Linked DNA regions of Homo sapiens. The protein of the gene in region 1 interacts with the protein of each later gene in a biochemical or structural test. Each region holds a gene or a part of one and is shown on either strand. Other genes may lie near its edges.

Region 1 (3,854 bases):
CAGTGGCTCACACCTGTAATCCCAGCACTTTGGGAGGCCGAGGCAGGCAGATCACAAGGTCAGGAGATCGAGACCTTCCTGGCTAACACGGTGAAACCCCGTCTCTACTAAAAATGCAAAAAATTAGCCAGGTGTGGTGGCACACGCCTGTAGTCCCAGCTACTCGGGAGGCTGAGGCAGGAGAATAGCTTAAACCCGGGAGGCTGAGGCAGGAGAATAGCTTGAACCCAGGAGGCAGAGGTTGCAGTGAGCTGAGATTGCGCCACTGCACTCCAGCCTGGGCAACAGAGCGAGACTCCGTCTCAAAAAAAAAAAAAAAAGTAGCAGGGCAATAGCTACTTTATACCACCCTTATCTATTTGCAGGATAACCTAGTAATCTGCCTTTTGCGCTTGAAAGAATATTTTATAATGCATACATGACTGCACTGTGTAAATAAAATCGAGTCTGTTAACTTTTCACTTTTAATACCTCTCAAACTTCTATTCTTCTCATTATCCCTTCTACGGGTACAGTCTCACTCTCTAATCCGTTTTCCACATTTCTAAAAGTTAATCACGTCACTTCTTGCTTAAAATTCTTCAATGGCTGTTCATTGCAGTAGGATAAATCCCCCAATGCTTTAAGATGAATCTAAATTTCTCATCTTCTGGCACTTTCTGACCTAAAATTGGTCATTTTTATCCAGGTGCACATGACAATCACCCATAGAGTGTGTTTTTAAAATATACATATCTGGCTCTATCCCAGAAACTAGTTCAGCAAGTTTGGGGAAAGGGATACACATTTATACTTTGACAATCACCAGAGGTAATGCAGATGCCTACTAGAAGCGCCTCATCTCTTACCAATACCCTCTCCACCATCACAAGATATCCTTCAGAACTTCTCAAGATTCTGTGCTGCATGTATTCTTCCACCTTGTACCTATACTAATACTGTTTTCTCTGGCAGGAATGTATCCTCCTCTTCTTTGCTTAACCACTTCTCACTTGTCTAAACTCGCAAAGCTTTCCCCAACAAAATCTTTATGAACCCCCTCCAAACTGTCCTAACTGAAAATTCTGCGCTTCCTTTAGCACAGCCCTTTAACACAGTGTTACACTACTACACTGTAGGCTGCTTGAAGGAAAGACTGAGGTCTCTTGTCTCTGTAGCTCTTATATTATGTAATACAGCACTCTTGCACATAGTTGGTACTCGTCAAATAATTGGTAAATGAATGTCCTTAACACTACGTAATAAAAATAATTTTAGCTTTTGGTGAGGGTACTTAAAAAAAAAGTTTTACTCTATAGAACCACCATTTTAAAAACAGGCTCTACAAAAAATAAATTAGCTGGCTGGGCGTGGTGGCTCACGCCTGTAATCCCTGCACTTTGGGAGGCCGAGGCAGATGGGTCACTTGAGGTCAGGAGTTCGAAACCAGCCTGGCCAACATGATGAAACCCCATCTCTACTAAAAATACAAAAAATTAGCTGAGTGTGGTGGCACGTGACTGTAATCCCAGCTACTCAGGAGGCTGAGGCAGGAGAATTGCTTGAACCCAGGAGACGGAGGTTGCAGTAAGCCAAGATCGCACCACTGCACTCCAGCCTGGGCAACAAGAGCAAAACTCCATCTCCAAAAAAAAAAAAATTAGCTAAAGTTATCTTTTTATACTAGTTAAAACGTACAATTGTTTGGATTAGGACTCTCTGCTTCTAAAAAGGAAATCTCAATTGTCCTCAGATGAGGCAAGGCCATGTATTTATATTAGATATAATGTCAGTGAAACTTGGATCTGCACAAGGAGGTTGATTATGAAGGTTATGAAAGTATTAGACTCACTGGAGATTCCTGGTGTATGGGCTCAGACTCTAGGTTGCTCTGGCCTTCAACATGTTCATTAAGGTTGGCTGTTTCACTGCTGCTGGTGCTGAGGCTGCAATAATCTGTAGCTCCGTTTACAAGAATGCTGTGTGGGCTACTGCACCAATTTAACTGACTATTATGATTTTCCAAATCTTTCATTTCCATCAGTTTCATTTGCATCTGCCAACACAAAGAAGAAATATAGAACAGAATTTATTACTAGAAAGACATGTAACATAAAAACGCCCTCCTCCACTTCCTGACGGGCTAGGTGTGGTAGCTCATGCCTATAATCTCAACACTTTGGGAAACTGAGGCAGGAGGACTGCTTCAGCCCAGGAGTTCAAGACCAGCCTGAGCAACACGGTGAAACCTCATTTCTACAAGAAATATAAAAATTAGCTGGGCATGATGGAGTGCACCTGTAGTCCCAGCTACTCAGAAGGCTGAGATGGGAGGATCACTTGAGCCCAGAGGTCAAGGCTGCAGTGAGCCATGATCACACCACTGCACTCGAGTGACAGAATGAGACCCTGTCTCAAAAAAATAAATAAAATAAAAATGGCTATACCTGTAGACTTGGTCTAGGATACATTTGCTTCCTTTAAGAAGAATCCTCTGGGAATGCTACGTGACTTAGAGAAAAGATTCAGTAATTTCTGACAATAAGTATTTCTCTCTTGAAATTTTAGTATACATGGATTTTTTTTTTAAAGAGATTCAAAAAAAGAAAATACTTTAAAGAATACCCATTCATCTGGTAGCATTCTCACTACAACAACTCTTTCAGGTTACCTGTTTATTGAGTACCTACACTGGGACAAGAACTGTGCTAAATGATACGGATTTTTAAAAATGTGTAAGTTCCCAGACCAAAACCATGACTCTGCTAGGGGAGACAGACATATAAGCAAATATGCAGGGAAAAATCTTATTATTGCTGTAACATAAATACAAAGTCCAACAAAAGCAGGATGCAGAAAATACCATAAAGAAATAAGAATTTAAGGTATATCTTGCATGACGAATGAGTAGGTAGGTACTCAGCTGCCAGATAACAGGGGGTAAGGAAGCGCAAAAGTGAAGGACTTCATTATATGTAATAACTGAGCACACTGGACTGGGTTTTAGAAGAACTGGATTTTAGATGTAGCTCTTTTCAAGGATATGTAACCTTGAGAAAGTTACTTGAACTTCCTTGGCTTTAGTTTGTTCAAATTCATAATGAAAGAAATCAACTCCATGATCTCTGTGTTTCTATCCTTTTTTTTTTAGTTTTTATTTTTTGAGACAGATTCTCACTCTGTTGCCCAGGGTGGAGTGCAGTGGTGTGATCTGAGCTCACTGCAACCTCTGCCTCCCAGGCTCAAGTGATTCTCGTGCCTCAGCCTCCCAAGTAGCTGGAATTACAGGCAGGTACCACCATGCCCAGTTAATTTTTGTACCTTTTAGTAGAAACAGAGTTTGGCCATGTTGGCAGGGCTGGTCTCGAACTCCCGGCCTCAAGTGATCCATTGCCTCAGCCTCCCAAAGTGCTGGGATTACAGGCATGGGCCACCACCATGCCGAGCCCTAACTATCTTATCATTCATTAAAACATTAGTCTTCATGTAGGGAAACCTGGAAATAAAGCAAAGGATCTATACATAAGACCAACTATAACACTGCAAATTTATCTACAGAAGGAACAATTTCCTTAAGAAAAAAGTTTCCAAATTAGCAAATGTGAATTCAAAATTAGAATCACAAAACAGAAGAAACTAGGTTATTGTTTATAAAACAGGCAACACTTATGGAGCATTTATGTACCAAGCACCATGCTAAAATGTCTTACAGGTTTTGCCTCATTAATCCTCACAGTGGCCCTAAGGGGTAGGGTATTTATTAATCCTCCAATTTTGAAGATGAAGAATCTGATACTAAGGTGATTTAGCTAGTAAGTGGCACACCAGTACTTAAACCTAGACCATCTAGCCACAAAGCCCACACTCTTAATCAC
Region 2 (3,500 bases), on another chromosome or scaffold:
TCTCATGGTACCCTTAACAGGGTATGGGGACTCCCCAAACCACAGTGAGAACTACTGCTCAGATAACAAAAAGCAAATTTGTCTAGCAGGCTGTCCAGTTTTCCTCAGAGTGCCCCCAGCAAAAATAATAATGAAAATAAAAAGCAAAATAATCACAGTAAGATACCATTTCACAGCCAGTAAGATGGCTATAATCACAAAGACAGTAATAAGTATTACCGAGAATGTGGTTATCGGAATCCTCATGCATTGCTAGTGGAAATGTAAAATGGTACAGACACCTTAGAAAATAATTTGGCAGCTCCTCATAAAGCTCAACATAGAGCTTTGACCCAGCAATTTCCACTCCAAGATCTACACCCAAGAAAAATGAAAACGTTATGTCCCCACAAAAACTTATACATGAGTGTTCAGAGGCATTAGTCACAATAGCCAGAAAGTAGAAACAACCCAATGTCCACCACGTGATAGAAAAATAAAATGTGGAATGCTGTTGGCAACACAATGGAATGTTATTCGGCAATAAAAAGGAAGTAAGTACCGGCACATGCTTCAACAGGGATGAACCTTGAAAACACTATGCTAAGTGAAAGCCAATCACAAAAGACCACATGATTCCACTTACAACAAACGCCCAGAACAAGCAAATCTATAGACAAAAAATAGATCAGTAGTTGCCTAAGGCTGGGGGGCCCAGGGAGAAACGAAGGGCAACTGCTAAAGGGTACAGCGTTTCTTTTTGAGGGTTCTAAACGTTCTAAAATTGACTACACGACCCTGTGAATGTATTACATCAATTACAGACTTTAAAATGGTGAACTGTATGGTAGGCAAATTACACTTCAATTACGCTCTTTCTTAAAAAAAGCTAAGCAATCTCTGTTAATCAGAATCATTAAATAACGAGTTTTTCAGCTGTCCAGTATTAGAACAAAGCAAATAAGAAAACAATGATCTCACAGACATTTTTTTTCTCAGATATCTTGCTATACTGATTCAATCCAACCTTCTGGATAAGATGTTGTCCAGCAGAAATATATATAAGCCACAAGTAATTTAAAAATTTTAAGCAGCCATACTGAAAAAAAAGTTTTTAATAAAAGGTCAAATTAATTTTGATATTTTACTTAACTCACGATCTGCAAAATACTATTTCAATACATAATATATCAAAAGTATTAAGATATTTATTTTGTTCATACCAAATTTTCAAAATCTGGTATAAATTTTACACTTAACACATCTCACTTTTTAAGTACTTAACCACATGTGGGTGATGGTATCAAAGTGGACAGTATAGTTCTAGATCCACACTATACAGTATAACGTTAAATCATGTGTGTGATGATGACCCTAAGGCAAGTTGCCTTATCAAAGAAAGGCTCAATTTGACTCAATACGTTTAAATTATGTCTAAGTATATTAATATTTTCCCAGAAGTTTGCACTGACAGAAGGCACTTTCTAAAACCAGAGTATATACTGCCTGAACATTTCAAGTAAATGTACTTCAAAATTTTACACATAACCTAACAGTCTATGAAATCCCAGAATAAGCTAATTAGAAGTTACACAGAAACTCCCCTCCATTATCTGCACTAATGTCTCACATATATAACTCTCCATTCTTCTAGATGTTATCTTGCTCGTGGATACTTGGAAATCCTCAAAGCTCTTTTCAATAGCTGATGATGAACAATTAACCAAAAAAAAAAAATCTCATACACAGGGACTTTGTGCCACTACACATTTATGCTTTTGTATCTATTTACTTACATACAGGTTGAGCATCCCCAATCCAAAAATATGAAATCTGAAATGCTCCAAAATCTGAAATTTTTTAACACCATGACATCACATGTGGAAAAATCCCATATGTAACACCTTTGCTTTCTGATGGTTCAATGTATACAGTTTGTTTCACTCGCAAAATTATTTAAAATATTGTATAAAATTACCTTTAGGCTCTGTGCATAAAATGTACATGAAATATAACTGAATTTCATGTTTATATTTAGGTGCCATCCCCAAGATATCTCATTATGTATATACAAATATTCCAAAATCCAAAAAAAAAGAAAATCCAAAGTCCCAAACACTTCTGGTCCCAAGCATTTCCCATAAGGGATACTCAAAACCTGTATTACAAAAATCTCTATTAATGACAGCACCTTGGAATGTACACAGTGCAGTTTATATTCTCACTACCTATTCTAGCAACCTGTAAGTAAAAATTTATGTTACTCAGTTGATTCTGAGTGCTCCGTGAATAATAAATTTCACTCTAAATTGGAAAAAAGCTTAAGCTTTATTAGTAACCTTGAACAAGTAACATTATTAAATACCAAATGTATATAGCACTGTAAAAAATTAAGGCAACCTGTTTCTGCCTGTTGGTACTCACGACCAGAAACCAATGGAAAAATAGGAAAATAAATTACCACCTTACAATTTACCCAAGAAGTTTAACGTAATTTCATCTAATCACTTATTACAGCATGTTCATATAAACAGAATTTTGGTATAATGTGTTAAGGAATCTACATTACATAGAAATACTTATTGAAAGAAATTTTAACTTATAGAAAACGGAATTTGTCTGATACAGAGCATAAGCCTTCAATATTATCCTCTGGAGGTCTTCGGCTTACCCTCTGACCCTCCAAAATTAGGTACAAATTTTAAAGACTAAATATTTCCCAATTTCTAACTGGACACTTTCAGTGGAATTTTAATGTCATTAAGTATTTTTAATGACAAATTTTCATTTGTAACAAACAGTTTCAATCAAACCCTTTAAAATTTTTAAATTATAAAATGGCATATCTTTTGTGCTTCAAGTAGATTTTACAAATAGGTCATTTGAAAACTGCTTTTCTTTTTCTTCCACATTTTCCTGTATCTGTTTCCCTTGCATATACAAAGCCCAACTTGTCTACAGGTTCTCTGGTGTGGTGATAAGCGTCAATTTTTATCACATTTTCTGCTTCAACATAAAACAATGATCAAGAATTTAAAAATAAACTACCATCAGAAAAGGCTACTTCAGAAAGACTTTAATTTTATCTATTAACAATTCGTACTGGGCCGGGTGCCCGGTGGTTCACACCTGTAATCCTAGCACTTTGGGAAGCCGAGGCAGGCGGATCACAAGATCAGGAGTTCGAGACCAGCCTGGCCAACATGGTGAAACCCTGTCTCTACTACAAATAGGAAAATTAGCCGGGTGTGGTGTGGCATGCGCCTGTAGTCTCAGCTACTAGGGAAGCTGGGGTGGGAGAATCCTTGAACCCGGGAAGGGGAGGTTGCAGTGAGCCGACACCATGCCATTGCACTCCAGCCTGGGGGGTGACAGAGACTCCATCTCAAAAAAAAAAAAAAAAAAAAAATCTCACTTTGGTTACAGCAGAGTAAAATAAAAGCGTTCACAGAATTTATAATTTTAACATCACAAAAAGCAAAAACATCCTCACAGCTATAACATCATATATTGACTGAAAG

What was found. The genes of interacting proteins can lie anywhere in the genome.
Region 2: the proteins of EPS15 (region 1) and UBQLN1 form a complex in vitro, tested with the Homo sapiens proteins (one study listed by BioGRID).

The regions. Positions count from the first base shown.
Region 1 is NC_000001.11:51,404,074-51,407,927, forward strand, and holds part of EPS15 (epidermal growth factor receptor substrate 15), read right to left. Parts: intron 2,036-3,854; coding exon 1,832-2,035; intron 1-1,831. UniProt on the Homo sapiens protein: Involved in cell growth regulation. May be involved in the regulation of mitogenic signals and control of cell proliferation. Involved in the internalization of ligand-inducible receptors of the receptor tyrosine kinase (RTK) type, in particular EGFR.
Region 2 is NC_000009.12:83,701,459-83,704,958, forward strand, and holds part of UBQLN1 (ubiquilin-1), read right to left. Parts: intron 1-3,500. UniProt on the Homo sapiens protein: Plays an important role in the regulation of different protein degradation mechanisms and pathways including ubiquitin-proteasome system (UPS), autophagy and endoplasmic reticulum-associated protein degradation (ERAD) pathway.